Regions from separate parts of the Homo sapiens genome. Here all the other regions are reported to be linked to region 2. The links are microRNA targets in miRTarBase. Many come from high-throughput screens and were not tested one by one. Region 2 holds a microRNA gene; each other region holds the end of a gene's coding sequence.

Evidence for each region. Region 2 holds the annotated microRNA hsa-miR-548ba (AAAGGUAACUGUGAUUUUUGCU, at 3,615-3,636, shown strand). A microRNA usually pairs through its seed, bases 2 to 8, with sites in the 3' UTR of a target mRNA and lowers its output. Matches are read on the target gene's strand: a 7mer-m8 pairs with bases 2 to 8, a 7mer-A1 pairs with bases 2 to 7 and ends in A, and an 8mer does both.
Region 1: the mRNA of PEX2 is a reported target of hsa-miR-548ba. Seed matches in the 3' UTR shown: 7mer-m8 at 2,845-2,851.
Region 3: miRTarBase lists ARID5B as a target of hsa-miR-548ba. Seed matches in the 3' UTR shown: 8mer at 3,156-3,163 and 7mer-m8 at 2,096-2,102.
Region 4: the mRNA of TOMM5 is a reported target of hsa-miR-548ba. Seed matches in the 3' UTR shown: 7mer-m8 at 1,220-1,226.
Region 5: miRTarBase lists FTH1 as a target of hsa-miR-548ba. Seed matches in the 3' UTR shown: 7mer-m8 at 650-656.
Region 6: the mRNA of FBXW7 is a reported target of hsa-miR-548ba. The part of its 3' UTR that is shown has no 7-base or 8-base seed match.

Annotation. Positions count from the first base shown.
Region 1 is chr8:76,979,100-76,984,190 of GRCh38, forward strand. PEX2 (peroxisomal biogenesis factor 2) reads right to left here. Exons shown (of 4, transcript NM_000318.3): 4 at 1,159-5,091. The coding sequence starts at 5,079. The coding sequence ends at 4,162. Among named protein-coding and RNA genes, the nearest start is that of MIR3149, 15 kb to the left of the region's middle.
Region 2 is chr2:49,055,989-49,061,079 of GRCh38, forward strand. It overlaps MIR548BA (microRNA 548ba), which reads left to right and starts at 3,615; the gene lies at 3,615-3,670. The region is part of intron 2 of FSHR (follicle stimulating hormone receptor); the gene reads right to left.
Region 3 is chr10:62,092,109-62,097,186 of GRCh38, reverse strand. It overlaps ARID5B (AT-rich interaction domain 5B), which reads right to left. Exons shown (of 10, transcript NM_032199.3): 10 at 243-5,078. The coding sequence ends at 4,157. Among named protein-coding and RNA genes, the nearest start is that of LINC02621, 160 kb to the left of the region's middle.
Region 4 is chr9:37,584,683-37,589,773 of GRCh38, reverse strand. TOMM5 (translocase of outer mitochondrial membrane 5) reads left to right here. Exons shown (of 2, transcript NM_001001790.3): 2 at 842-1,361. The coding sequence ends at 876. Among named protein-coding and RNA genes, the nearest start is that of TOMM5, 5.4 kb to the left of the region's middle.
Region 5 is chr11:61,960,299-61,965,298 of GRCh38, reverse strand. It overlaps FTH1 (ferritin heavy chain 1), which reads left to right. Exons shown (of 4, transcript NM_002032.3): 3 at 187-312; 4 at 408-1,014. The coding sequence ends at 572. It overlaps BEST1 (bestrophin 1), which reads right to left. Exons shown (of 11, transcript NM_004183.4): 10 at 2,406-3,044; 11 at 838-1,195. The coding sequence ends at 1,177. Among named protein-coding and RNA genes, the nearest start is that of FTH1, 4.8 kb to the left of the region's middle.
Region 6 is chr4:152,318,289-152,323,379 of GRCh38, forward strand. FBXW7 (F-box and WD repeat domain containing 7) reads right to left here. Exons shown (of 14, transcript NM_001349798.2): 14 at 2,256-4,861. The coding sequence ends at 4,593. Among named protein-coding and RNA genes, the nearest start is that of FBXW7-AS1, 17 kb to the right of the region's middle.

The DNA of each region.
Region 1 (5,091 bases), not on the chromosome of region 2:
GTTTTTATTTTCCTAAGGAAGAACACTTGTAACTGATGGTTACATACTTGAGGCTAACATGGAAACATATCATGTAGCTAAATCCCATCCAGTTTTCCTAAAGCTTGAGCCTGGAGCCTGCTGGGGAGTAGAAACAGTCGCACCAGAGGTATAGCAACTCTTCTGGCAGTGCCCAGAGAGGCAGAGACTGAATGGAGTTCCTGGGGGCTGTCATAGCAACTTGGCCAAGAAGTCTGGTATTTGTAGTGGGGCAGAGATACTCAAGAGACACTTGGGTGTGTCAGTCATAAATCTATTGTTTATAAACGAACACTACCTGGCATTAGTGTGTTGTTTGTCCAGTGTACTATATGCAAGAAAAACAAAAAAAAAGGAAACCAGAAAGGAAAAAATGGACAGTATTAGATGTGGTACACACCAAGATATGCCACCTGGCTCCTCCTGCAAGGATGTACATGGTGCCCAGCTGTGGAATGTGGTCAGTGGACTGCCTCCAGCTGTTGGCTCCCACAGGATCTGCTTCCGCTACAGAGCTGCCATGCTTGAGATCACAACCTTCCCAGAGCTGCCCACACCCAGTGACTGACAGAAGTGTAGGTAAAAAGGCCTATTTACTTTGGCCTAATTTAGGACATTCTGACAGATGACACTAGCTCAGAGCTCCCCTCTGGGCTGGCCAACTTTTTTCAGGCCTGCTTTAGAGTACTCTCATTTCTTCTGCCTATTCCTGCTTTGCTCTTTCCCTTCACAGGCATGGATCCCTGAGAGTTATACATAAAAATCTCTTGTACTTCAAACCCCTTTCAACGCCAGCTTCTGCAGAACCCTATCTGCGACCTTAGGTTTATTCAGCTAATAAAATGTTTCTATTGCTACACTAGAACTAAAAGGCTCTGGCTATCTAGTGATGAACAAAATAGTCATGGTCTCTGAACTCATGGGGGTTATCACCTAGTAGGGGTGGCAGATGTTAAATAAAAATGAAAAATAATAAAAACCTATTTTTACTAAGTGCCATTAGGGTCTGTGGAAAAAAACCACCCCCTACCCCAATACTGACAAGTCTATCAGCTGGCATATATGTAAAGTACTGTTTTCTTAAGATTTTGAGAATATGGATAACTACTTAGAAGTTACTCTATCAAAATAATACAATTGTTGATATAACAATTTTGTTGACTTTATTTAATCCTTTCAAATCTGCAATGTTAAAGAATCATCCAGTTACTTATGAATGTCCTTATCAAGCTAGATCACTGGTAAAATGAGACTGCAATGTGGACTTTTGAAATGAGTAAGGCAAATGTAGACTCTAACTAGTAGAGATCTGCCAGCATCCACCCTTCTAAGAACACCTCAGTTTCCTGTGGTGAACGGCCTCCTCCAGGACTCCTTTAGGTTCATGTGGTATATGGGAGGAGCATCACCTACATTTAAGTAACCAGGAACAGTATTTTCCATCCCCTAGCTATAGTGGCTGGTTCAGGAATGTGCACATAATCCAAGGCAGACCAGTAACAGTGAGCTCCTGGACTTTAGCTGTAACTATTAGGCAAGAGTATCTCATGCCAGTGGGATCAGAAAGCTAGCAGATTATAAGCCTTGAGCTTCTAGCGGCCATCATTCTGTGTGAGAATGAAACCGACTCAGAGTAATACTGACAACAGCAAAGGAAAGCACTACTATTATATTCTATTTACTATGTGTCAGGCATTGTTTTAAGAGCTTTATATACACTAAACATGTAATCCTTACAATGAACAGATGTGCAGAGATGTGGCACATTGCCCTAGGTTATACACAAGTGGGATTTGAATTCTAGCGGAATCTGTGTCCCTCATGCCATGTACACTCATCAAAAAAATGAGAGCCAAAGGATAAAGCCTGTCTCAAAGAGAACCATCTGAGCACCTACATCCAGACTGGGCCTGCAGTGTGCAGCTGGACTCTTCACTTAATGAACTCAGATTCAACATTGCATTATTCACAACAGAAAGTGAAAAGAACCTAAATGCTCTATGATGGTGGTTAAATAATAATAGGAATAGGAATATGATGGCATATACATAGCATTTTAAAAATATATTATGGCTGGGTGCAGTGGCTCATGCCTGTAATCCCACAACTTTGGGAGGCCAGGGTAGGAGGACTGCTTGAGCCCAGAAGTTCAAGACCAGCCTGGGCAACAAAGTGAGACCTCATCTCTACAAAAATTAGCCAGGCATGGTGGTATGGGCCTGTGGTCCCAGCAACTTGGGAGGCTCAGATGGGAGGATCGCTTGAGCCCTGGGAGGGAAAGGCTGCGGTTAGCCATGATCACACCACTGCACTCCAACCTGGGTGACTGGGTGAGGCCCTTTCTCACCAAAAACAAACAAACAAACAAAAAACAAAGACGTTTGTATATATTTTTATTTTTTTAGAAACGAACTCAAACTCCTGGGCTCAGCCTCCCTAAGTAGGGAGCCTGGGATTACAGGCATGAGCCATTGTGCTCAGCCCTAAAATAGTTTTGAAGAATATTTATACATAGGAAAAAATGCTATTTTTTATGCATTATAATAATTTTGTAAATAAGAAATGTACGTGCAACAAATCTACAAATATAGTAAAATATAGTGATGATCTCTCTCAAAAAATTGTGGGAAAGTTGATTTTATATTTTTTCCTGAATTGTTGGTGTTTTCTACAATAATGTTTTAAAATTACAGAAGGCAAAAGAAGGCAAATTCTTAAGATGTAAAATACTCTTAACTCAAACTACAAAACTTCTTCAGTATCTTACACTAAATTGAACCTAAATTAAACTTACAGTTCATTCAATCACAGAATGTAAACTCCATGAAGGTAACTTGATTTTTCCTGCTTAATATACTGTTGTGCCTCTAATGGCTACATCAGTACCTGGCACCTGAGTACTTGTTCAATGAAAGGTGAAGAGAAAAATGAACTGGCAGTGTATTTCCATCATACTAGCAAGATGTTTATTTAAAAACATTTAAAAACTGTTTTTTAAAAAACATTCTAGTTAAGACGAGATAATTCAATGTTCAAGCTAATAATTCTATACCATTTTAAGAGTCTGAATTTACTTTTAAGTAAAAAAAGGCAGAGAAAAAGAGTGAAGGATACAGAATTATCTTGATTATGCACTGCTGTTACTATTCCCATGCTAAAGACCCCTTTTGTTTCAATAAAACTATCAATATTTACTGAGAATGACAGCTCTGAATCAAAGGCAAGAGAAAGAGACCTGTAAATAGTGCTGTTCATACTAGTTGCCCCCAGTAGTTCCCAGGCCTCACTTCCAAGCTGCCTTAAGTAATTTTTACTTTCTGAATATAAAGCCAACTGTGGAGGGGTCAGACAGCTGAGGACTGAACTTCTTAAAAATTGGCTTCAGAGAAAAGCATAACATTACAACTGAGGCGGCCAAGCACAGTGGCTCACGTCTGTAATCTCAGCACTTTGGGAGGCTGACGCAGGTGGATCACCAGATCAGGAGATAGAGACCATCCTGGCTAACACAGTGAACCCCATCTCTACTAAAAATACAAAAATTACCCGGGCATGGTGGCATGCACCTGCAGTGCCAGCTACTCGGGAGGCTGAGGCAGGAGAATTGCTTGAACCCGGGAGGCGGACGTTGCAGTGAGCAGAGATCGCGCCACTGCACTCCAGCCTGGGTGACAGAGCAGGACACCGTCTCAGAAAAAAAAAAAAAAGTTACAACTGAGGCATCAGGTCTTAAGGTTTAAAACAGTCTCATAATTGTCACATTATCATATTATGTCAACTCTGAAAATAAATGCACACTCATCCCAGAGTCTCCAAAATCTTTATCTTTAGAATCCAACCTTGTTTTAAGAAGTAGTAAAATGAAGGAGCATTGTTAGTAGTCACCTGACAAAAGCTGTCCATTATTCTTGACATTAAAAATTGAATGCAATGATTTAAAAAACATAATACATTAACATTTACATAATATATTTAGAATCACATGGTTTCCAGTGATTAGATTTCAGTCATGCCTGGAAAGGAGAAGACAGTGGCTAGGAGCACATTCCTTATAAAGGATACATAAATGGTATACTTAGGATGACTAATATTAAGAATTTAAACACGGTGCATTTTTTTCCTCAAAGGAAGCAATTTTAGTTTCTAAAGAGCATTTACTTCTGACATCTCGATTCCTGATTTCAGTGGCTGCAGACTGTGTACTTCTGTGCCACACTTAGGACAAGTAAAGTACACGTCAAATAAGAAACTACTCTTAGCACAGAAATAACAGAAAATATGCTCACATCCTATGGTGTGAGGCATGGTGGGCCACTCTCCACATAGAGCGCATTCTTTGCCACTGGTGGCTAATGTATTGTCACTATTAGGTGCACCAGTAAGAGGAATACACCATGAAGACAGCTTGGCTTTCAACTTCTGGACATTGATAAGTGGTAAGAGAAAAATCAGAAATTCAGCAAAACCATGCCAGAGAAGTTCCCTATTCATGTATTCAAAGCCAACTTCACATATGTTTTGAGGCTTGCAAAATACAGAATGAATACCTAGGAGACGTTCTGTCAAAGTTGCAAACTTTCCCCTCTGAAGGAAAATCAAAAAATTAATCAGCCCACCTAATTTCAAAAGTCCAATCACAAAATTCACACACTGCTTGACTTTCCCAAATGATGCTAAATGATGGTTTCGAAACAAATCATAGCATCGTTCTTCTAACCACCTGCCACCAATTGTACAAACAGCATACCAGATTTTTTGATTTTTACTGGGTGGCTGATATCTCAGGTTAGGGGAAAAATCATTTTTGTACTTAATATTCAAAACTGACTGTCCCACTGTGGCATTTTTGGAGTAGATGGTGAATCTCCACAAGAAAACCCATAAGCACGCTTTCACCTCTGGCTCAAAGCGAGCTAACAGCCCAGGTTTAAATCCATGAAAGCACTGAGTAAACTGGGACCAAACTAGCTGCTCCAGGGCCTTGTTTAGTTCAAGTGCATCCAACTGGCTTATTCTTAGCACTCTGTTTGCACTCTTCGCATTCTCTTTTCTGGAAGCCATGTCTTCTCTGAA
Region 2 (5,091 bases):
ATACACAAAGGACAAAGAGAAAGGAATCAAGCCTATCACTACAGAAAACCACCTAATTGCAATAATTAAAAATAAGAGAGGAAGTAAGAAACAAAGGATATACAAAACAAGCAGATAACAATTAATTGCAAGAGTAAGTCCTCACCTATTAATAATAATCTTGAATGTAAATAGATTAAATTTCCCATTTAAAACATATAGACTGGTGAAATAGATTTTTTTAAAAGACCCAAATATATGCTGCCTACAAGAAACTTACTTTACCTGTAAAGACACATAGACTGAAATTGAAAGGATTGAAAAAAGATAATCCTTATAAACAAAACCCTAAAGTGAGCAGGAATAGCTATACTTACATCAGAAAAACAGACTTAAGTTAAAAGATGTAAAAAGAGACACAAATTAACATTATAAAATAATAAAGGGATCAATTCAGCAAGAAATCATTACAATTGGAATATATATATATATATATATATATATATATATATATATATATCCAACACCAGAGCACACAGATATAAAAAGCAAATATTATTAGACCTAAAGGGAGAGATAGACCGCAATACATTAGTAGTTGGAGACTTCAACACCCTACTCTCAGCATTAGACAGATTGTTTAGAGTGAAAATCAACAAAGAAACATTGGATTTAAACTGCACCACAGACCAAACAGACACTTACAGAACATTTCATCCACCAGCTGCAGGATACAAATTCTCATCATCAGCAAATGAAATACTTTTCAGAATTGGCCATATTGTTTCTGTTAGGACAATAAACAAGTCTCAAAAAAATTTTAAAAATATCAAAATTATGTCAAGTACCCTATAATACCATAATGGAATAAACCTAGAAATCAATAACAAGAGAAACATTTGAAAGCATACACTACATGGAAATTAAACAGCACATTTCTGAATAATCAATGGGTAAAGAGGAAATTAAGAATAAAATTTAAATCTTTCTTAAATGAAAATGAAAACACAAAATACCAAAACCTATGGGATGAGCAAAAGCAGAATTAAGAGGCAAGTTTATATCAGTAAACCCCTATATGAAAAAACAAGAAAGATTTCCCAGCCTCAAATAAACCAATTAACACTGCAACTCAAGGAACTAAAAAAGGAAGAACAAACCAAACCAAAAATTAGTAGAAGACAAAAATAATAAATATCAGAGCAGAAATAAATGAAATTAACACTAAAATAATAACACAAGAGATCAATGAAATAAAAAGTTGCTTTTCTGAAATGATAAGCCAAATGAACAAACCATTAGCTAGACTAAGAAAAAATGGGAGAATAACCAAATAAATAAAATCAGAAATGAAAAACATACACAATGACAGTAGCAGTAGTAGTAACATTACAATGTTTACTAAAAAAATACAAAGGATCATTAAAGATTGCTATGAACAAGTATACACCAATAAATTTGAAAACCTGGATAAAGTCCTAGACAAATACAACCCACCAAGATTGAACCAAGAATAAATAGAAAATCTGAATAGACCAATAATAAGTGACAAGTTTGAACAGGTAATTGAAAATCTCCCAACAAAGAAAAGCCCAGGACCAGATGGCTTCACTGCTGAATTCTACAGAACCTTTGAAAAATAATTAATACCAATTCTTCTCAAATGATTCTGAAAATTGAAGCAGAAGGAACTCTTTCTAACTCATTCTCATAGGCCAGCATTGCTCAGATACCAGACAAGGACATAGCAAAAAAAAGAAAACGTAGGCCAATATCCCTGATGAAGATAGTTGCAGAATCCATAATAAAATACTAGCAATCCAAAACCAATAAGACATCAAAGAAATAATATATGAGAATTAAGTGGGATTTATCTGAGAAATGCAAGAATGTTTTAACATATGCAAATTAGTAAACATGATACATTAAAGCAACAGAATGAAGGACAAAATTCATATGACCATGTCAATATAGAAAAAGCATTTGGTAAAATTCAACATGCTTTCATGATAAAAACTCTCAATAAATTAGGTATAGAAGGAAAGTACCGCAACTCAATAAAGGCCATATATGACATACCTTCAGCTAATATCATGTGGATTGAGGAAAAGCTGAAAGCTTTTTCTCTAACAACTGGAATGTTACAATAATTCCCACCATCACCACTCTTATGTAACATAGTATTGAAAGTTCAAACAAGAGCAATTGGGCAAGAGGAAGAAATGAAGGGCATCCAAATTTGAAAAGAGGAAGTCAAATTGTCCCTGTTTTTAAATGACATATTATACATGGAAAAACTGGCCAGGTGCAGTGGCTCATGCCTGTAATCCCAGCACATTGGGAGGCTGAGGCAGGTGGATCACGAGGTCAGGAGATTGAGAACATCCTGGCCAACATGGTGAAACCCTGTCTCTACTAAAATACAAAAAATTAGCCAGGCATGGTGGTGCATGCCTGTAGTCCCAGCTACTTGGGAGGCTGAGGCAGGGGAATCGCTGGAACCGGGAGGCAGAGGTTGCAGTGAGCAGAGATCGAGCCACTGCACTCCAGCTTGGTGACAGAGCAAGACTCTGTTTCAACACCCTCCTCCCCACCTAAAAAAAACCTTTAAGAACTGTTAAACAAATTCAGTAAAGTTGAAAGATACAAAATCAACCAACAAAAATCAGTAGCATTTCTATCCACTAGCAATAAACTACCTGAAAAAAAAATAAAGAAGCCCATTCCATTTACAAAAACTACAAAACAAAACAAAACCCTATGAATAAATTTAACTCAAGTGGAAAAAGGCCTCTACAGGGAAAACCACAAAACACTAATGAGGTAAATTGAAAAGGATACAAACCAATGGAAAAACATCCCAAGCTCATGGATGTGAATAATCAGTATTGTTAAAATGACCTTACTAACTAAAGCAATCTAAAGATTCAATGCAATTACTATCAAAATACCAATGCAGTTCTAGGCACAGTGGCCCACACTTGTAACTCCAGCACTTTGGGTGATTGGGGCAGAATGATCCCTTGAGTCCAGGAGTTCAAGAGCAGCCTGGGCAACATAATCCCCATCTATGCAAGAAAATAAAAAAATAGCTGAGTATGGTGGCACATGCCTGTAGTACTAGCTACTTGGGAGGCTAAGGTAGGAAGATTACTTGAGCCCAGGAGTTTGAGGCTGCAGTGAGCCATAACTGAGCCATGATCACACTCCTGCCTGACTAAGACCTTGTCTCTAAAAATTAAAAAAATAATAATAAAATAAAACAGCCAACAACAATGCCGTCATTCACAGAAGTAGAAAAAAAAATTTAAATTTGTACGGAACCACAAAACATCCTGCATGGCCAAAGTAAGCCTAATCAAAAAAGAACAAAGTTGGCAGCATCAAACTACCAGACTTCAAAATATAATACAAAGTTATAGTAACCAAAACAGCATGGTACTGGGGGAAAAAAAAAACAGACAAATAGACCAATGGAACAGAATAGAGAATCCGTAAATTAATGCACGTATCTATAGCCAACTGATTTTTGACAAAGGTGCCAAGAACATTCACTGGAGAAAGGACGGTTTCATAAATGATGCTGGGAAAACTGGATATCCACATGTAGAAGACTGATACTATTAGGCTGGTGCAAAGGTAACTGTGATTTTTGCTATTAGAAAGTAATGGCAAAAACTGCAATTACTTTTATATCAACCTAACAGATGCCCCCTTTCACCTCTCATTCTATACAAAAATCAACTCAACATGGATCAAATTCCTAAATATACGTCCAAAAATGATAAAACTGCAAGAAGAAAACATGGAGGAAGTGCTTGAGGACTTTGGTTTCGGAAAAGATTTCATGAATAAGACATCAAAAGCACAGGAAACAAAATCAAAAATAAAGGGGATTATATCAAACCAAAAAGCTGCAGAGCCAATGAAACAATCAATATAGTGAAAAGACAACCACAGAATGGGAGAATATGTTTGCCAAGTACTCATTTGACAGGGCATTAATATCCAGAATATATAAGAAACTCAAACAAAAAAATACCAAAAAAATTTGATTAAAATATAAGCAAGTGATCTGAACAGATATTTCTGAAAAGAAGACATATAAATGGCCAACACATATATGGAAAAATGCTCCACATCACTAATCATCAGAGAAATGCAAATCAAACCATAATGAGGTATCATCTCACACCATTTGGGATGGTTATTAAACGAAAAAAATACCGGTGAGGATGCAGAGAAAAAGGTACCCTTACATATTGTTCGTGGGACTATAAACAGTAAAGCCACTATGGAAAACAGTATAAAAAGGTTATTCAAAACACTGCAAATACAACTACCATATGATCCCATTAGGTATTAGCAAAAGGAAAAAAAAACAAAAACAAAAACTCAGTATCCTGGGAAAACATTACCTTGACCACTCAGAGAAGTCATGCCTCTCCAGTGCCTAAGTTGAAACTGTGCCCTGCATCCCAGGAAATGATGCCTTGACCAGCCAGGGTGGTCACACACCCCAGTACCTAAGCTGATGTGACACTCTGCATTCCAGGGAAATGGGGCTTGGGCTGCCTAGAACAGTCACATCCCACAGGCCTGAGCTGAAGTGGCACATTGCCCCTGGGAAGTCAATGCCCTGGCCAAGCTGAACAGCTGCATATTCCAAGGCTGAGCTGTTATAGTATCCTGCCGCCCAGGCAAGAGAGAAGTGGCTGAACTGAAATACTCCACCCTATATGCCAAATACCTCTAGTACCTTGCTTCCCTGGAGCCGGACTAGTTCCCTATTCTGGGCTTCTGAGATACCTCTCTCCCTGGGGAGTGCAGTCATCCATGTACCCACTCCCCCCCGGCCCAAACTAGAGCTGTGCTTTGCCATTCTGGGATACTTGCTGTTGCTACACATGGCTGTAAAGAGTCTAGAATGCTGCTAAGCCCCACCATTCCAGGGTCTATGGTCACTACTGCAAAGTGCCTCATCTCCTGGGAGATGCCACTGGGTATATTTGGCTCAGGTTCTCAAATTGCATCCATACCTTTCTCCCCCTGCCCATACCTCCAGATTACCCCTTCTTCTGAGGGATCAAGGTAGTACTGTACCTTGCTCCT
Region 3 (5,078 bases), not on the chromosome of region 2:
TGGACCAGTTGATTTACCTCTCTAAGCTTTAGTTTTCTCATAAGTAAAATAGGTATAACCATATTTACATAAGGTTGTGAAGATAAGAGGTATTTGCCAAATGGGCACCCACTAGGTCCTTAGTGAATTACAGACATTGCCATCATTACTGTTATCATTCAATTTGGACAGATGGGGTGGAAAGTCTTCTGGGGAGGCCACAGGCTCCTCAGGAAGAGTGACAGATTACTCACACCCAAAAGGAAACAGATAGTAACATTTTTTATTAAATATTACAGTGGATCAAAAAGTACAAAATATCTCTTGCCTGCTATGTGATTGGGAAACTATTGGCACGTAATACAGTATCAAAAGCAGTAATAAGTACAATTTGGAAAACATACAAAATTGAGTGTTTATAGTTGGCTCAGCATTCTTCTGGTAGTGTTTAAACTAATGCAAAGGTTACTCAATAACCTCTCCATTGGGAAACTATATAATATCACTGGGCCATGTTGCTATATACAAATAATCACCTTACAGAGCATAGAGGTTACATAGCTGGAATCACCAAAAGTATACAATATTTACAACACAGGAAAGTTTAAAAAAGTATAAACAGCCAAGAGATTATGCTGCTATTCTTCAGACATATTTCAACCATGAGGAGACAGGCAGAATATCAAATACACTAACAGCCAACACTGGACTTTAAGTGCTCAAGATAATCATTGCAATGGTATGGGTCTCACCAGGGCAAACTCATTCCCATTTCTCTTTAAAATTGGGACAAGAGTAAAACTAGACCAGATGCGACTTGGCTGACCACCACCAAATGTGACTTTGTGGGACGATAAGTGAAGAGAAATAAATGGTTCTCTTTGAAGGCACACTACATAAAATATTTTTGTGGGACCACCTCGAAATTTCCATCAGACACACCAACACAGTGAAATACAGTACTTGAGAATTCATGCACCAGGTCAGAAAGTTGTAAAGTTAACATCGAGTTTTAACAAACCCTTCTGTATATGCCCTGATAAACAAGTGAACTTAAGAGCTTCTAGCTAGTAAATAAATAAGTCAGTCCTGTGGCAAATATTACAAGTTTGAATCACTTACTAGAAGAATACTTAATTCCGAAACTCGGTTGGGCTGTTTTTATTTTTTTATCATGTGGAGTTGCCAAACATTAAACCAGAAGTTGCATGGAAGTTTTTTAAAAATATTATTTAGAATCTCCAAATCTCCAATAAATCACAGACTTAGTGCATTTTGAATTGCAACATTTCTTGGAAGCCACACTCAGTAAATAGATTTATGACTCCACTGCCAATTCGATTCCACAGTTTCCTTTACAGAACTACCAATAACAATGGTTTGATTGCACAAAGAAAGGCTTGTGCAATTCCATTCAATAATAAGGCCCCTTGAACTCAAACAATGCAAACAAAGCCTTATTTAAGACATTTTAAAACGTCGTTCTCAGCCAATGAAGAATTCAATGGTCTTTTTGAAAGATTTCCAAGATCTCTGTTCAGAGTTTTAAAACAAATAACACACTGCTTCTGTTGGGAATGCGTACCCCCATTTCTCTTTATTTGTCCTGATGTTTTGCCGAGGGTATGAGCTTCCTCAGACAGAAACAGTGAGTCTCCTCTCAGAAGAGATGAGAAAAACAAAAGCTGGACTATGTTAACATTGTTTGAAAATGGTGTGATCGAATTCCAACATGATGAAACCAGACTGAAATCATTGCAGTGGAAAAAACAAATGCCCCATATTCCAAATAGGTGAGCTCCACCGGGGACAGATGCCCCCCCTCCTTTTTTTTTTGAGACACGAACTCATAGAAACCACATATGACCTAGCCCATGTCTGCTGCAGAACCACCGAAGTTTCCTTTTTCTTCCATGTCCTCCGATTCTGTGACCATTCAATCTAGTGCAACTTTCTTATATGTGTCCTGGCTAGCATCTTGCCAGCTGGAATTGAGATTTTTCCCCCCTCTAGCTTGTGCAATAGCAGGATAATCTGCACTCACACATTTATAATCTAAATTCTACTAGTCTATCTATGGTTCTATTAAATATATATATATATATTATTCCACAGGAAGGTAAATAATTAATTGAAGCAAATGGAACTCTTAACACTGGATCTCTACATTCTTTTGTTTCCACCTTTGGATATTAAGTATGTTACATTGAATATTTGGCTTCATATCATGGAGACATTTCAATACAAATGCACGGCATGCATGGCTTTGTTTAAGAGCCGCAGTTTCATTGTTATCAGTTTTGATTATTTTGCAGTCGAGTTACCTATTTAGAAGTTGAAAATTGTCACCAATTTTCCCAGAATTAAGTATCTCAGAGGTAAAAGACTTAGTTAACTATGGTTCTAAAGTCTACTGGTAGTGTTGCGGGAGGGGCACAGTGGGTTGGGGAGTTCATCCAAGCGGTCTTCAGCAGGGATGGGACTTGGGGAGAAAATCCACTCTCTGTATCCATTGACTTTTAATTAATACAGTTAGAAAATGTGTCCACCTTAATGTTATATCTCGGTAGCAAATGGAATACAGTGGCAAGAATGACAACGGACATTCTCCACATCTTTTCACTGCCTGAGCAGCTTGACCATTTACTTCCCACAATAAAAGAAACCAGAAAGTGGACTGTATTGCCAGGTGGTTAAAAACATGACCCAAACCACCTTACATGTTTCTGTGTGTGTACACACAAAACTCACACCCCATAAAACCAAATAGGATGACTTTTCTTTTGAAAAGGCTAATCCAGTATGTCAGTTATCCCCAAAGATGTGGCCTGGGAGATTCTTCTTGGGAATGACAAGAAACCAACTGGATGAAAACAACATGACTACTTATCACTCAAAAGACCGAGGCTAGAGAAGCTATCAGGACTGCAGCTGCTCCTCTTCTGGCCAGTTGAGCTCCATCCTCTTCCCAACCCCCTTTCCCAGACCATTTAAAGGAATCAGTGCCAACGCCAATGTAAATCATTTTGGCTCCTGTTCTAATTTCTGAAATTCCTAAAATATCTGTGCAGCCCACAAATATGTCCTCTAGACTCTGTTGTTATTCGGCAGCTTGCTGCCAGTGAGGTTTTTGTTTTTATGATTCTCTGGTATGTAGGACAGTTTCACAGCCTAGATAAGGTAAGTACAATGCTCAATATTTTCACAGAACCCAATACTTCAAAGCAAAGCATTTGGCTGGGTAAGCAGTGTATAAGCTCTTTCAACTATGCCATTTATGAGGAACAAAATCCTTAAGTTGCGGATCTACAAAGGAACGTTCTTTGCACTATTGTGTGCTTGACTGTTTCTTTTTCATTTGTTCCACTAGAATCAGTTGCTTCAATTTGTAAACAATAACTTTACCACCCAAAGCTGCTCAAAATAAGATGTGGAAAAATTACAAACACACAACAACTAGGACAGTCAGTCAGCCTCAAAAACAAAACAAAAACAAAAAGACCTGCAAACAAAAGCAATACCATTTAATAAAAAAAAAAAAAAAAAAAAAAAAAAAGACGAGAAGGAACTGGGAGAAAATGGAACTACCTGTATATAAATTAGGTGAGCAAACAGTGATACAGGTAGTTTTAAGAAGCAAATATATACAGTCAATTTAACAGTGTTTACTTCTCTGGATTGTTTAATAGTGTCAAAATGAAAGATCTATTGAAGTTTCACTATACATTGCATTGATTGAACCTTGGAGAGTTTTATGAAAAAGAGGGGCATCCCTTGCCATCTGTTTGCCAGTCTTCCTTGCCCCTTCCTTTGAAATGCCTGCCTCTTTTTTGCCCAGATTGTTTCCTGACCATCCGAACTCAGATGGGGTCCTCTAAGTTCTTCCTGGATATTCACAAATCCCTTCACAAGGCCCACGTGCGAAGTGAATGATCTGGAGGTGCCTGGGCATCTGTGTTGGAAGGGAGTCAAGACTCACCAGCCAGTCAGTTTGTGGGCTAGAGTTGTCCCACAAAAATCAGGCATGTTCACCTCCCCTCTGGGCCCCTACAGCTGGGACTGATCATAGCCTCAGATTAGAAGAAATACTGACTTCTAACTCTATAAGCCAGCACTCCTGGGTAAGGAGTGAAGCTCTGTTGGCCATGCCGCTTTGGACTGCTGGGCAGAGCTGAGCCTACAGTTTTGTACTGGGGTGCACGGATGACAGCTGGGAAGATGGAAAGGCAGCTTGAGGATTTATAGCAGCTAAAGGGTAAATGCTGTTATGCAAAAGGTCCCCATATGAACTTCCTACAGGTGTAGCCGCAGCCAAGTGTCTGTACAGCTGCTGAGAATTTGTCGGTGATGTAAAAATTCCTCTTTGCATCACAAGCGAGTGGAAAGCCAGGGGCTGCATGAGTGGAGAAAGCACAGTCTGGTTTTTCAAGTACTGCAGAGAATGAGAATACCCAGCCGGGAGCCTGGAGTTGAGGCCCGAGTTACACAGGCTCCCGGAATACAGACCTGGGAAGATAGGGGAGGAGAGGGGAAGCTTGTGGCCTTCTGATCCGCCCCCGGAATGCCCACCGTGCGCTGCTTTGCTGCCTTCACTCTCCTGCTCAGAGGCCTTCTCCTTCCCAGAGACCTCCTTGGATGGGTCTAAGGGAGACACTGCCCGGGCCTTTTTCCCTGCAATCACAAGGTCCAAATCCTCCAGGCTGCGCTTGATCGGCCGCGCCGCCCCAATGTTCTGCGGGCTCATTTTCCGGTGCAGGATTGGGTGGACCATGCCTTCCATCTTCCTGAAATTCTCCAGTCTCACATGGTGAGGTTTTCCTGATCTTGAAAGCGATTCAGGGTATTTTTTAGGGCCTGACATGGTCATGGGTGATACCCGACAGGCTTTGGGGTGACAGTCTCGACTCTGGCTGCCTAAGACCTGGAACTGGGAGATGCCTTTGCTCTCCTGGGGCCCTGTGGTGGAATGAGCCAGGCCCAGGACCTTGCCGGTAGGTTTGTGCGGGTTCTTGGGAAGGCTCAGATCTGTAGGCTGATCATCCGTAGGGGCTTCTGCTGCCGCCGACTTTTTGTCTTGCAGGTGCAGGGACGTGAGATAA
Region 4 (5,091 bases), not on the chromosome of region 2:
GAGGCGGGCAGATTGTTCGAGCTCAGGAGTTCAAGACCAGCCTTGGCAACATGGTGATACCTCGTCTTTTAAAAAAATACAAAAATTAGCCAGGCATAGTGGCATGTGCCTATAGTCCCAACTATTCAGGAGGCTGAAAAAAATAAATAAATAAAATAATGTTAACAAAATTCTATTAGTATGAGTATTGAGAAAGAAGGTGATTTGGGTAGCTTTTTTTTGGTCACAACACTTTTACACAGGACAGTAATATCACTTCTTTAGATCTATATGTCGACACTTAGTTTTCTAGACATTTCTATGTACATGATCTTATTAGACCCTCTTAATGACTGAGGTAGGACTGTATCAGATGTGATCTAGAGTATGTTAAGTGATATATAGCTAATCAGTAAGAGACCCAAAATAGGTGTCCAGCTCTTCCGGTTCTCTAGTTCAGTGTTTTCCCATATCCTCTGCCTTTCAAATGAGTTTTTAAAGGTGAAAAATGCCCATTTGTTTCCTCTAGAGTTTTGTTCCTTTTACAGTTAAAATAAATCGCTAGAGTAAAGCCTTGTCATTTGAAAGAGAATTGGATTTATACTTTATGGCCCTAAGGGGCAAACTATCTGGAGAAAAGGTTTTATGTAGTATAAGAATGAAATTTACAATAATAGCTGAATGACAGTGGAATGGGCTGCTTTGGAAGGCAACTAGTCCCTTTTGCTGGGCTGTACAGGCACATGCTTGACCATCACTTGGAGTTATTTTCAAAAACATGTTGAATAAACCTGATAATTCTATAATGTAGCCTATGGGCTAATAGATTTGAAAACTAATTTTAGATTTGTTTTTCTTTCAGCTCCATTTATCTTAAAGAAATTGGACAGCATATGAAGACAGGACATCACATATGAATGCACGATATGAAGAGCCTGGTTACAGTTTCGACTCCTCTCTGCAAGTGAATAGGCCCAGAAAGGTGTAAGAGACTCTTTGAATGGACATAAAATTCTGCTTGTTAAGAACAAGTTTGGCTCTGGTAACTGACCTTCAAAGCTAAAATATAAAACTATTTGGGAAGTATGAAACGATGTCTCGTGATCTGGTGTACCCTTATCCCTGTGACGTTTGGCCTCTGACAATACTGGTATAATTGTAAATAATGTCAAACTCCGTTTTCTAGCAAGTATTAAGGGAGCTGTGTCTGAAATGGCACTGTCTTGTCAGTCATTTCTGTTTACCTTTTTCTTCTGCCCAGAGTGTATTTGTGAAGAGTCTCTTATATTATGTTTTGTGGAAATCAGCACACAACCACAATGACATTTAAGCACAGGATCATTATTAGTCTATGTTTTTAATAAACATATCAATTAAGAAAAGTTGGGTTTCTATTTTTCTTATCCTACTTTTTGCTGCAAACCAACAATCACTAGTGAGACTTGTATTATATTGAGATTATTGCAAGCTTCAGTAAGTTCATCTTGTTTTGGACTAGAGAATTTGCCAATCCTGATGAAGTGTCATTGTGTTTTATTGCCAGGCAGTCTTAATGAAAGGTAGCATTACTGCTTGATGCTGAGTATATGAAATATTAATACTACCAAAGGAAAAAGTACTATATTTTTAAGCCAAATAGTTCTCCAAGTTTGTTGAGTGGAGGGGGGATAGTCCTTAACCTTCTCCCCAGGAGCAACTACATACACCTCTTTTTAGCTGATTTTATTGGTATTTACCTTTTGGTCTCTAAATAATGTGACGGTCGTGATTGGGATTTAGGTCTCTTTCCTGTCCTTAGCGCCATCACTCACACGTATCTTGTCATCTCTTCCTTCCAAAGGATAACGTAGTGTGATCTTGAGTAGATTAGTATCATTAGGATTCTGAGTATAGTACCTGGTTTTCTTTTGCTGTGTATCTTTTTGTTTTTTTCTAGGCTTGGTTTTTCTATGGAATTTCCACTAAATCAACTAAACTTTTTGCCATTTATCTAAATCATTCACAGCAATCAGCTTTATTAGGTACTCTGTTTCATTTTCCTGAGTAAGCGTTTCCTGGAGTCTTCTGACCCGCCCCTGACTGGACTGATAGCCTTCTATGCCTGATGTGTGTGGCTATATTCTGGGAACTCCCTTCTCTATGCCTGATATGTGACTGTATTCTGGGAACTCCCTTCACTATTGTCCGGGAATTCCTTTTCTTCTCTCTTATTATATCTCGTTTTCTGTTACCTAGTGTCTTGGTTTACTCCCTTGTTTGATGGAGCCTGTTTTCTCTGGCAGTGTCCTCCTGAGAAAGGTGGCATAGGAGGTGAATGACCTTGCTGGTCTAAAAATGTCTTTTTTTTTTTTTTTTTTTTTTTTTTTAACACGGAGTCTTGCTCTGTCAACTAGGCTAGAGTGCAGTGGCATGATCTTGGCTCACTGCAACCTCCACCTCCCAGTTCAAGCGATTTTCCTGCCTTAGCCTCCCAAGTAGCTGGGATTACAGGCACGTGCCACCACGCCTGGCTAATTTTTGTATTTTTAGTAGAGACAGGGTTTTGCCATGTTGGCCAGGCTGGTCTCGAACTCCTGACCTCAGGTAATCTGCCCACCTCAGCCTCCCAAAGTGCTGGGATTATAGGCATGAGCCACTGTGCCTGGCCTTAAAAATGTCTTTATTCTATAGTTTGATGAATATAGGGTTCTAGATTAGCAATCATTTTCCTTCAGAATTTTAAAGCAAAGCCTCTAGCTTTCAGTGTTGCTGCTGAGAAATCTGAAATCATTCTGATTCCTGATTTTTTTGTGGGACTAAGTATTTCTTCCTGAGAAACAAGGATCTTTGTTCCTAGTATGCTTATATTCCATGATGACATCATTTAGTGTGTGTTTATTTTAATACACTGTGGTGGGCACTTGGTGAACCTATTTAAACTTGAAACTTGTATCTTTATTTCTCAAATTTTGTAGGTTTTAAAATAATTTTATTATTTTTTATGGGTATGTAAGTGTATATATTTATGGGGTGCATGAGATATTTTGATACAGGCATACAGTACCTAATAATCACATCAGGATAACGGGATTATCTGTCACCTCATTTATAATTTATTTATGTTACAAACATTCCAGTTATACTTTTAGTTATTTTTAGATGTACAGTAAATTATTATTGACTGTAATCACCCATTATGCTATCAAATACTAGAACTTATTCATTACATCTAACTATATTTTTGTACCCATTAGCCATCCCTGCATTCCTTCCCTAACCTTTCCTAGCCTCTGGTAACCATCATTCTACTCTGTCTCCATGAGTTCAGTCGTATTAATTTGTAGCATCCACCAATGAATGCTTATAGGTTTTTATTGATTTCCTCCCCTTCTTTTTCCTTCTGCTCTCTTTTTAGAACAATAGTACTTTTAATGTTTTCTTTTTCCTTTATATTCTATTTTATCTGTAATTGCTTTTCTCTTTTTTTGTTTCATGTTAGATGCTTTCCTTGGTTGTCTGCTCACACTTAAAAATTGGGAACTAACATGGATTAAAGGCCTGGAGTGGAGCTTGTTGATGTTGAACTTTGCCAAAGGGCCATCTATTGGGCCATTTTTGTTGAGAAAACTTTTTGCGTCTGTATCTTTAGTTATTTCCCATTGAGCTGGTCATTGCTCAGAGAACAAAGACTCTTCCAATCTCCCAAGTGCTGAATGAGGCCCTGCCAACGTTCTGGGATTCAAAGGAATAGGGCTGTGGTGAGGCTCAGGACAGACAGGTGTGTGTGTGTGTGTTTCAATATCCAGTATGTATTTGCTCACTGCGTCTCTGTTTTGAGTATAGTACCTCTGCCCAAACTGCCTGGCATCCCATAATCTAGAGACCTTCTATTTTACCCTTTTCAGAAAATAAACTTTTTATTTTTTGGAGACAGAGTTTTGCTCCAGGCTGGAGTGCAGTGGACGATCTTGGCTCGCTGCAACCTCTGCCTCCCTGACTCAAACGGTTCTTGTGCCTTAGCCACCTGAGTAGCTGGGATTACAGGCGCACACCACCATGCCTGTCTAATTTTTGTAGTTTTAGTAGAGATGATGTTTCATCATGTTGGCCAGGCTGGTCTCGAACTGCTGGCCTCAGGTGATCCGCCCATCTCAGCTTCCCAAAGTGCTGAGATTACAGGTGTGAGCCACTGCACCTGGCCTAAAAAAAAAAACTATCATTTTGAGAGGGTACTGTGTAATGGAGGCTGTTTTGCTGCATAGAGTTGCAGAGAGCATCTGATTACTTAAACCTTGCACCAATTCTTATTTTAATGTCTACCCTTCTACCCCTTATTGCTAGAGGCACCTGAAGCCACTAGTTTCTGAGCCTTTTAGGGATTCCATGATATAAATTAGGTTGTGAGTTTTTGTTGTTGTTTGGGGGTTCTTGTGGGTTTTTTTCTTTTTCTACCGCTGGCTCAGAATTCAGTTTTTCAGAGTCTACTACATTATTTACTGTTGATCTACCTATTTTCCAGCTTCTAACGTTTTATTCCTGTTTCCTCTTTTCTTCCATCCTTTTAGGTTTATATCTTAAAACAAAAACCTTTACCGTCATTTAATGGGATTTTTGGGAGGGAGTGGAGGTAGGTATACGTGCTTCATCTACCATCTTAACCTGGAAAGCATGTATTTTAATTCTGTGGTTTTGTATTTATTTCTTAAATTAAGAAGGTGTAGTGTATGGCACTGTGGTCATATGAATACTGGCTCTAAAGACAGGCAGACTTGATTTTGAATGTTGGCTCCAATACTTACGAGATGGGTGATTTTCAGCAAGTGAGCTCCGAATCTCATTTTCTTTAACTATAAAATTAGGATAATAGAAACATCTCTCTACTTCAAAGTGTCGTAAGGATTAAGTGAAAAAATGCAAGTAGAGCAGCTGGCACAATTGCTTGACATTTGGTAAATGTTATTAATGGCTAGTCTTTGGTATAAGGCATTTAGAAGTGATTTGTGCTGGCATTCACAGCATAGACAGATCTCATTCCTATTTCCAGATGCTCTGAGATAGCATACTCATCCTCTAATTGTGTACAAACTTCAAACTTACCAAACACTTAAGTTCATTATCTAAAAATAGCCTTAA
Region 5 (5,000 bases), not on the chromosome of region 2:
CTAGCAATTGCCCTTATAAAGTGATGATACACTGGGCTTTTGCCTTTTGTGCTTTTTTAGGCTTACCATCTAAACTAAATTAGGCAAATAGTAATGTCCCTTTTGCCAAAACGTGGTGGTTAGAGATGATGGGCTTGCTGACTTCTAGGTTAGTTGGTAGAGATGCATTAACCTATTCTCATTCAGAAACCAGACTGTGATGACTGGGAGAGCGGGCTGAATGCAATGGAGTGTGCATTACATTTGGAAAAAAATGTGAATCAGTCACTACTGGAACTGCACAAACTGGCCACTGACAAAAATGACCCCCATGTGAGTATTGGAACCCCAGGAAATAAATGGAGGAAATCATTTGCCTTAGGGATTGGGAAAGCTGCCCACTAACTGTCTTCCCCATTGTTTTGCAGTTGTGTGACTTCATTGAGACACATTACCTGAATGAGCAGGTGAAAGCCATCAAAGAATTGGGTGACCACGTGACCAACTTGCGCAAGATGGGAGCGCCCGAATCTGGCTTGGCGGAATATCTCTTTGACAAGCACACCCTGGGAGACAGTGATAATGAAAGCTAAGCCTCGGGCTAATTTCCCCATAGCCGTGGGGTGACTTCCCTGGTCACCAAGGCAGTGCATGCATGTTGGGGTTTCCTTTACCTTTTCTATAAGTTGTACCAAAACATCCACTTAAGTTCTTTGATTTGTACCATTCCTTCAAATAAAGAAATTTGGTACCCAGGTGTTGTCTTTGAGGTCTTGGGATGAATCAGAAATCTATCCAGGCTATCTTCCAGATTCCTTAAGTGCCGTTGTTCAGTTCTAATCACACTAATCAAAAAGAAACGAGTATTTGTATTTATTAAACTCATTAGTTTGGGCAGTATACTAAGGTGTGGCTGTCTTGGATTCAGATAGAACTAAGGGTTCCCGACTCTGAATCCAGAGTCTGAGTTAAATGTTTCCAATGGTTCAGTCTAGCTTTCACAGTTTTTATGAATAAAAGGCATTAAAGGCTGAAGTAGTCTGGGATTTTTATCTATTAAGCTAACCATTTGATTCAGGCTGTTGTAGGACATGTTCTTCAGTGTGGACAGCTGTATGGCTGTGACTGGATCAGTGTCCTGCTGGTGTACACACAGGTGAGGACCTGGCTGGCGAAGCATCCCCATTAGGAAGCAGGTTAGGAATGTGCTTCATCCCTAGTGAGAATGAAAGTATTAACAGCATAAGTATGGAAGGTCCCTTCATTTCAAATACCAAAATGTTGCAGTAGGAGGGCAAAGGTTGAGACGATCCTTTTTTTTTTTTTTTTGAGACAGTCTCACTCCGTCGCCCAGGCTGGATTGCAGTTGCTCAATCTCACTGCAACCACCACCTCCTGGGTTCAAGCAATTCTCCCCTCAACCTCCTGCGTTGGGACTACAGGCACACCACGACGCCCAGCTGATTTGTATTTTTTTTGGTAGAGATGGGGTTTCATCATGTTGGCCAGGTTGGTCTCAAACTCCTGACCTCCTGTGATCCACTTGCCTCCACACCCAGCCCAAGACAAGATTCTTAAATATTAACATCCTTTGCTGAACAGGCCACAGATGTTTGCCAAGTTCCTGTCTAGCCCTAGAAGCAAGACTGAAATTGTTGCCCTTTTAAGTTTTCAATCATAATAGCTGCGTGTTCTGACCGTGAAAGTAACTGCTTGAGAATCCAGAAAAGGGAAGTTACACTTCCTCCCACGTGATTGGGGCTGAAGTGGGGTGTTTATAATTGGGTGAAAGTGTCCAGGAAATCTGGAATAAAGGGAAATATCTGATTTTGTGACAGCTTTGGGCTGACCCCAAGGAAGCAAGAAGTATTTTGGTGAGGTTCCCAGGCAGTGAGAAAATGACCTAAGGGCGCTGGACACCCTCAACCTCACCATCTACCAGTTCCTAGGAGTGAGGCAGTTCCTGCCACCCTTTCCTGTAGTGCTTGGGTACTACCCTAAATAGTTATGGGGGAAGTGTTCATCTGTCATCCAGCTGACTGCCACCTCATGGTTTTGGGTCAGCCACCCTTGCTCAAAGTAAGTTGGGGCCAGTGATAACATCTGCTCAGCTAAGCCTGGCCTGTCAGCCCTGGGGCAGTTCTCCAGCAGCATTCTGGTCAGCACAACCTCATCTTCCTTCACCTGGTCCCAAGAAGTCTTCCGGGTGATACCAGGGTGAAGTGAGAAAAGGTCCCGAACACTTCCCTAGGATCCCTGTGAAGGTGGCCAAGTATATACCCCAAGCCAGTGCTGGGCGTAGGTCCAGTGTGCTCTGGCAGTGATGGAACCCTAGGAAATTGTGGAGGAAGGGTAGGCTCAGAGCAAGGGAAGCTGGGGTGGGGCACAGGGCAATGCAGTGCCCCTGGTTCAGGTGGAGGACAGACCTGTTTTCCAAGGCCCAATAAGGATCCATGTGATCTTTGAGTGTAGTGTGTATGTTGGTTGGTGATTGTTCCAAAGGTTCTTTGAGGTGATTTTCGGGGATCTCTGGCATATCCGTCAGGTTAAACTCCACAGTTTTCCTCCTCACTTGAGATACTTCTGGGTGCTCCATCAAGGCCCCATCGCTCTCTGAGAGCAATTCAAAACTTTTCTTGGCCCCAGAACTCACAGTCTTTAAGCTTTTGTCTTTGGTGTCTATGCCTGTGACACTGTGAAGCTTTGACGGCGCTGATGGTTCTAGGGGGAAGAACATGGGAGTGGGGCTGAGGGGCGTCTGTGGGGCACTGTAGTAGCCTGGCCTCTGATACAGTGGGGCAGACTTGAAGGCGTCCACAGCCTTAAGCTTCCAGGCCTTGTTGTCTTCCTGGCCCCTAACGTTCTGTTTGGCTGCCTTGTGGTTTTTGGGCAGGCCCTCGTGGAGAAGGGATTCCCTCTTGGGCCACAGTAGTTTGGTCCTTGAGTTTGCCCTGGGAGGATGGTGATCATGGGACTGCAGGCCTAGGAAGCGGCCAATGATGCCAGCGTGAGCATCCTCCTCGTCCTCCTGATTGGGCTGGAACTCCATCTCCTCTTTGTTCAGGCTGGAAAGAAACAGGAGATGCAGGGCTGAGCCAGTGGACAAAGGACCAACACCTGGCCTTACTTCTCCCTTACCCCCGCTCCTCTCTCTCAGTTGGCCCAAGCCAAGGCCACACCGTCTTCCTCACCATGCCCCAGCTCTCACCTCTCTCCTGATCTGTCCTGTACCTCCCGGTGATCCCTCCAGGCCCAGCTCACCTCACTGTTTGTTGATTCCCTCTTGACCAGAGTTAACATCCAACCCCCGCAACCACCCCGCCTGGCGTGTAAAGGCCTCCTCATCATTCACTTCCCCTGTAAAACCCCTCACTCCAGGCAGTCAGAAACACTGGTGCCCTGGCATGAGTGGTTCAGATGAGGCCCATGAGTGACTCTGGGCAATGCCAGGAATTTGTGGTTCCAACTGGGAGTGACATCCACAAAGAGAAATTTGACTTCCTAGCAACAGGCATCCCGGGAGCCCCAGACCTTTACCCTGCAAGGGAAAGCTTATCTACCAGAGAGTATGGCCTGCCCTTGCCCAAGTTCAGATTCTTCCCATGTTCCATGGCTCAGCTCCAGACCCAGCTGGAAGCCGCCTCCCAGGCAGACAAAGATGACTGTGTTCCATGTTCTGTCCCTTTTCTGGACATCCAGTACTTTGTACCTTGTATCCAGAGTTTGAGGCTTGGGTTTGAGCTCCCTCCATAAATTGTGCATTCCTTGGAGACAAGGTCTATGCTTTATCGTTCTGTTTTCAGCCCTCCCCACCCCTCAACAACCTTCAGCTGCTGGGGTACAGACCATGTAGGGCTCAAAGTCATCCTCCAGAAATGTTTCTGACCTAAGCAAGCCTCCAGCCTTCATTTGATCACCTTCCCAACCCTTCCTCACACTATCTATAGACTGTAGTTAAACTCGATTGCAGTCTAGTAGGATATTTGGTTCTTAAAAGAACAAGCAGCCAGGCACAGTGGCTCACACATGTAATCCCAGCACTTTGGGAGGCTGAGGAGGGTGGATCACCTGAGGTCAGGAGTTCGAGACCAGCCTGGCCAACATGGTGAAACTGTCTCTACTAAAAATACAAAAATTAGCCGGGCTTGGTGGCTGGCACCTATAATCCCAGCTACTCAGGAGGCTGAGGCAGGAGAATTGCTTGAATCTGGGAGGCGGAGGTTGCAGTGAGCCGAGATTATGCCACTGCACTCCAGCTCTGGGCAACAAGAGTGAAACTCCGTTTAAAAAAAAAAAAAGAAAAGAACAAGCGAGAACAGCACTGGATACCGTGGAAGAAACCCTTGAGTATGAACCCTGACATGTGCCCAACACTCTCCAAGGCACTTTCAACTCTGTTGTCCTGGGGAGAAAGGACCAGCTGGGATAGCCCTTCAGCCCACTGCAGCTCAAGAGGGATTCAGATGGAATCAGGGAAGTGGGACCATGTGGGGATAAGTCTGGCTGCTGTGGGTGGCCTGAGCCCTTTACTCGGTAGGACAAAGTCAATTCAGGAGGTACCTGTGATGGCCTGGCTGCCTGCTGGGACTTTGCTGCCCCTCCCCCATCCCAGGGAACCCCACTTCCACTTCCCATCCAAGCATCGTAGCTTATCAGAAAACATAGTTTTGACACCTATAATTCCAGCATTTTGGGAGGCCAAAGCGGGCAGATTACTGGTCAGGAGTTGGAGACCAGCCTGGCCAACATGGTGAAACCTCATCTCTACTAAAAGTACAAAAATTAGCCAGTTGTGGTTGTGGGCACCTGTAATCCCAGCTACTGGGGAGGCTGAAGCAGGAGAATCACTTGAACCCAGGAGGCGGAGGTTGCAGTGAGCCAAGATCACGCCACTGCGCTCCAACCTGGGCGACAGAGCGAGATACTGTCTCAAAAAGAAAAGAAAACATAGTTCTGGATGACAAGAGCCAGGTCCTAACGTTCCACTGCATCACTGATCACAGGCTGTCCTTCGAGTAGCA
Region 6 (5,091 bases), not on the chromosome of region 2:
GTGAGTAGGCGCCTCTGAGATGTCTTCTCTCCTTCACCTCCGTACCTTTGTTTCACAGTGTGCAACGTGTATCTCAGGGAGAAGTGTACAGAAAACCAGGGCTCAGCTGGGTCTGGGGAAGCTGCCCTTGATCCCCATTTCACTTTAGGGAAGAGAAAAGCAAAGAGGTCTTTTGTAGCCTCTAATCAATTCAGGGAAATGGAAGAGTTTACAACAGACTAGCTCAAAGCTGGTAGAGAAAATGGCTTAAAGCAGTTAATACAAATAACTAAATGTCAATTACTTTTCTGAAATGAAACAAGGCTGGTTGAAACATTTACTTACCATTTGGTAGGCATTAGCTTTTGCAACCTAATGAAATAGCTGTGGTAATTGAATCTCAATAAGGGGGTTTCAAAGTGTCAAAATTATAAACAATTCTAATATAAAATAATGAGATAATCAACTCTGCTCAGTTCAACAAGTATACTAAGTACCTGCTACTGGCTTTTATGGGTTACTTTTGTGTCCTAATTTCAGCCTTAGTTTCAGGCAATGTTTGATATTTGGGAACTTGTAACATCTAAATATGAAGTGTGCCTATATCTGTTATGAAGATTTTAAAATGTACAGTTACATGAGGTGGTAAAGTTTTTCATTAAAAAGGCCACAAAATGGAGTTTTCTTAGTGACCTTTTTACAACAATTATACTTTGATTCCTGTAGAAGGATGCTAACATTTTCCCTTCAAGCAAAGATTTATTGTAATAAAGATTATTCATTTATTCATAAAATGATGTTTAATGAACACCTAAACACAGTCATCCCTCCATTATTTGTGGGTTCTGCATCCACAGATCTAACCAAACGAGAATCAAAAATATTTGAAAAGGGTGGCTATGTCTGTATCGAACATGTACAGACTTTTTCCCTTGTCATGATTCCCTAAACAATACAGTATAATAACTATTTACATAGCATTTACATTGTCTTAGGTATTATAAGTAATCTAGGTATGATTTAAAGCATACGGGAGGGCTTGTATATGTTACATGCAAATACTATGCCATTTTATATCAGTGACTTGAGCATCCATGAATTTTGATATCCATGGGGGTGAGGTTGGGGAGATCCTAAAACCAATCCCGCCCAAATACTGAAGGATGACTGTATATACAAAACCACTGTTAGGTGCTCAATATCAGTCTGTCTCACAAGGTTTCTGTAAAACTCAAATGAGAATCTAGATGGCTCCACGTAAAAGAATGGACTGCTGTGTGTGTGTGTGCACACGTGTGTATGTGTATGCTATTTTTATTACATAATCTGAGTAACAAATACATTCAATTCTCTAATATAGAAAGTTATCTGGGTCTATTTACTTAAAATTTTTAATAGAAGCTACCATTTACTGAGCTCTAAATGCCATCGGTATGCAATGTGCTTTACGTTTCACCTAATCTTTATAATAACCTTAGGAGATGGGTATCCTCTACATCTTAAATGAGGAAACACGAGGTCAAGAAACATGATAAAGGTCCCAGTAACTAGACCATACTAGAACTGAGATGAATTCAGGGCTATTTGTCTGCAAAGCCTGTGAACTCATTCTATTCTCTAAAGTTCTAAAAATGGATGTTTCTCTTCAATTATATTCTAGTTAAGCCTCATTTATATGCTCTTATGAAAAATCAAGCAGTTTCAAGAACTATCAAATAGAATTACAACTTTTTCTTGACAATTCACAGTCATCAATGTGAACAGTAGTCACGGTTTGGGCAGTAACGTGGTTTACTCTAAAGACCCTGCACTTCACGGCCTAGTAGGATTTTTGCCTTGCATTCAACCAGGTAGTTTTTTGTTTTTTTCCTTTACCCTGTCACTTTTCCTTGCTATTTTTGTGTCTGTAATTTGCTGTGGACTAATAAACCAAATAACCAAATGTACAGGAATGGTATCTAAAGCAATGGTTCTGAAACTTTAGTATCCACAACTCACCTGGTGAGCTAGTTTAAATGCAGGTTCTTGGGTCACACTCCCAGGTGTTCTGATTTAGTAGCTTTGGGAGAATGAGGCCCAGGATTTGCCCTATGAGTAAAGAACACATACTTTATGACTATGAGAAAAAGGGGAGTCCATTTTCAGTAGCTTTTATATTTTCATCTACGGCCTGGTTAGTTGAGATTACTGGATGTGTGTATATATATATGTGTGTGTATATATATATATATATATATATATCTCCTGCTATTTGAGATACTAAATATATTTAGAACTAGTTTCAAAAACAACTTTATTTTTTCCCCTTACATCATAAAATTTAGATTTTATAAAATTTAGATTTGTTGAACAAAACGGCTACAGAACAGTCAGAAAGTACCAGAAAAATGGCTTATTTCCCTCTCAAACCTTGCTTTAGTCTGTCAAACTTTCTTAAAGAGCAGCATGTATTTAGTCTTTGGAAATATGGGTTTGAGTTCTGGCATTCCGCTAGTTCTATGATTTGACAAATTGCCTAACCAGTCTCAGCTGCAGATTTTTGCTCGTCTTTAAGATGGGAGATAATAGTGCCTACTTCTCAGGGATAGTGGGAGCTTAAGAGAGAATGAACAGAAAGTATCGAGGGTAAGCACTTAATATGTGGTCAAAATTTCAAAATGAATTTGTTATTTATAAGGCTTCTAGTTGTAATTATCACAAAAGTTTTGTGGATTCTTTGAGGGAACCAGATTTCATATTTATACACCCCAATGCAATCTACAGAGATGAGCACAGTGGAGTGTCCTCCTTCATAGTCTAGGAGAGAAATAAAATTTGCAGTTGCAGCACATTATCCTTACTTTCGCGGTATAAAACAGGCTTGAAGTATTGATTTCTATGTCACACAGCAGGATGCAAAGAAACCAAGATTTTGCTTATTTAAATATTATAGACAAATCCTAAATACTTATAATGAAGGATTATTACTTCAGTGGAAGAAACAGGCATACTAACATGAAAAAACACATTTTATTGCACTTAAGTTATAAGAAAATAAAATTTCTAAGTGAATCAAACCATAGACACAATCCCTTTAAAGGTTGTTTTCCTCCATCATGTCAGGTTGTTACATAACTAAAATTAACCAACTTGAATCTGATTGTTTTAAATCAGACTATAAATAAAACAAACAAAAAAATAAACAGAAGGAGGAAAAAAGATCGCCTAGGATACAGTGTTAAACCACTTTCACAGTTCAGCTTGAGTTGTGGCTCTTGGAGAATGAGGCAAACCATTTGACTGTTTCATTCATTTTGTTTGTTTGCATGTGACGCCTTTACTACAAAAACTGAATAGTTTCTGCTTTGTCAGTTACTCAGAGCAATAAAACTGTAACAGTTGTTTTCCCAAATACTGTAAAACACTAAGACTGACCAGCAACTTTATTTTAATTTTGTGTTTTATATATTTTTAAAATATTTTGTCAGTTTTACGATGTACGTTCATCCATTCACCACAGCCCTCAAAAAGAAAAGTTTCTCCACAGAACAGGCAAGTAATAGCTCTGTTCCAAGGAATGTGTTTTAATTTTTGCCCAGATAAAAGAAAATAAGCTTTGCACACACTCTCAATTCTTTACTTGCAGGCAAACTTCACTCTTTATTATCTGAAACTCTTCCATTCTCAGCCTCTTAGAGGCACAGATGGCTCAAGTTTCAGTGGCAAAAAGTCTTTTTTCCATAACCAAACTAGAGCAAATTTGGAATTCAGTCTGGGACTAAAACGTCACAGCAGAAAAAAAATAAAAAAAAATAATTTGCTTTTTTCTTTCTTTCATTTAGCAGCATAAATAAGTTTGGCCACTGGGAGTACAGTACAGGGTTGGGACAACAATCCCATATTTGAAGACCTACTTCTAGCACCAGCATCAAGAATTAAATCCATCTCAGGACTCACAGAACCCAGGACAACTTGCCACCTTTGAGCAACATATGCATTGAAGAATGTATATGGAAGCAACAGTAAATAGATTAACAGAGGCTAATACTGTGATTGATTGACATTGGCAATGGTTGGCAAAAAAAAAAAAAAAAAAGCTTTTCATGATAACTGTACAAAAACAATTCACAGTAATTTTTTTAAGCTTTTCCACTCCAGAAAAATGACTTTTTGTTGCAGATGCTCTCTAATTAGAAAGTCAACCAGTACTTGTTTTGATATTATTGCAGTTCCTTTCTAGGTGTCTAGCTGTCAGTGGTAAAAGAACAGGCTAGCAGAATCTGTAATGATGTTTCAGCATTAACACTGCCCAATGACCACTGGAGAAGAAAATAAAGAAATAATTGCACCTGGTTTGATTTAGAAAGTCTCATTTTGCAAAGCTGCCCTCAGTCAAAAGTGAAGCCTTTTATGTGATGAGACAGCAGACGCCTCTCTTGTCAGTTATGGTTTGTCATCTCTTCTTCTTTTCCTTCTTAGTCTGTAGGTCTTTTCAATCTGTTGCCCCAAGCCAACATCCTGCACCACTGAGAACAAGGGATTTTTTTCTTTTTCTTTTCTTTTTTTCTTTTTGCAGGGGGAAGGGCAGGGAGTATATCGTCTACACAATTGGACAAATTCATCTTTTCTGCTCTTCACTTCATGTCCACATCAAAGTCCAGCACCAGCAGCTTGGTTTCTTCAGTCCCATTCCGACTCCCAACTGCACACACCAGCTTTGTGTTTGAGGCTCTGATCCGCCACACAACTCCCCCACTCCCCCCACTCTCCAATGTGACTAGGTTTCGAATAAATTCACCCGTTTTCAAGTCCCATAGTTTTACAGTTCCATCATCTGAGCTGGTAATTACAAAGTTCTTGTTGAACTGTAAACAGGTCACAGCACTCTGATGCTTGTTGGGACCTAGACAAAAACCAAAAGAATTTAATTACTGGTTAGAAATAATGGCTATGAGTTAGTTACATTATAATTTGTAGACTTCTACTTTAGAACATACAATAAATGCAACATTTGAAATGATACATATTTAGAAACCCATGTCCTCAGTATTTTAGGATCAGCATGGATGTAAGAAAATCTGGTAGTGATTTGTAACTGAAACATTAACTTTCAAGAGGTCTGTCTTCCAAGAA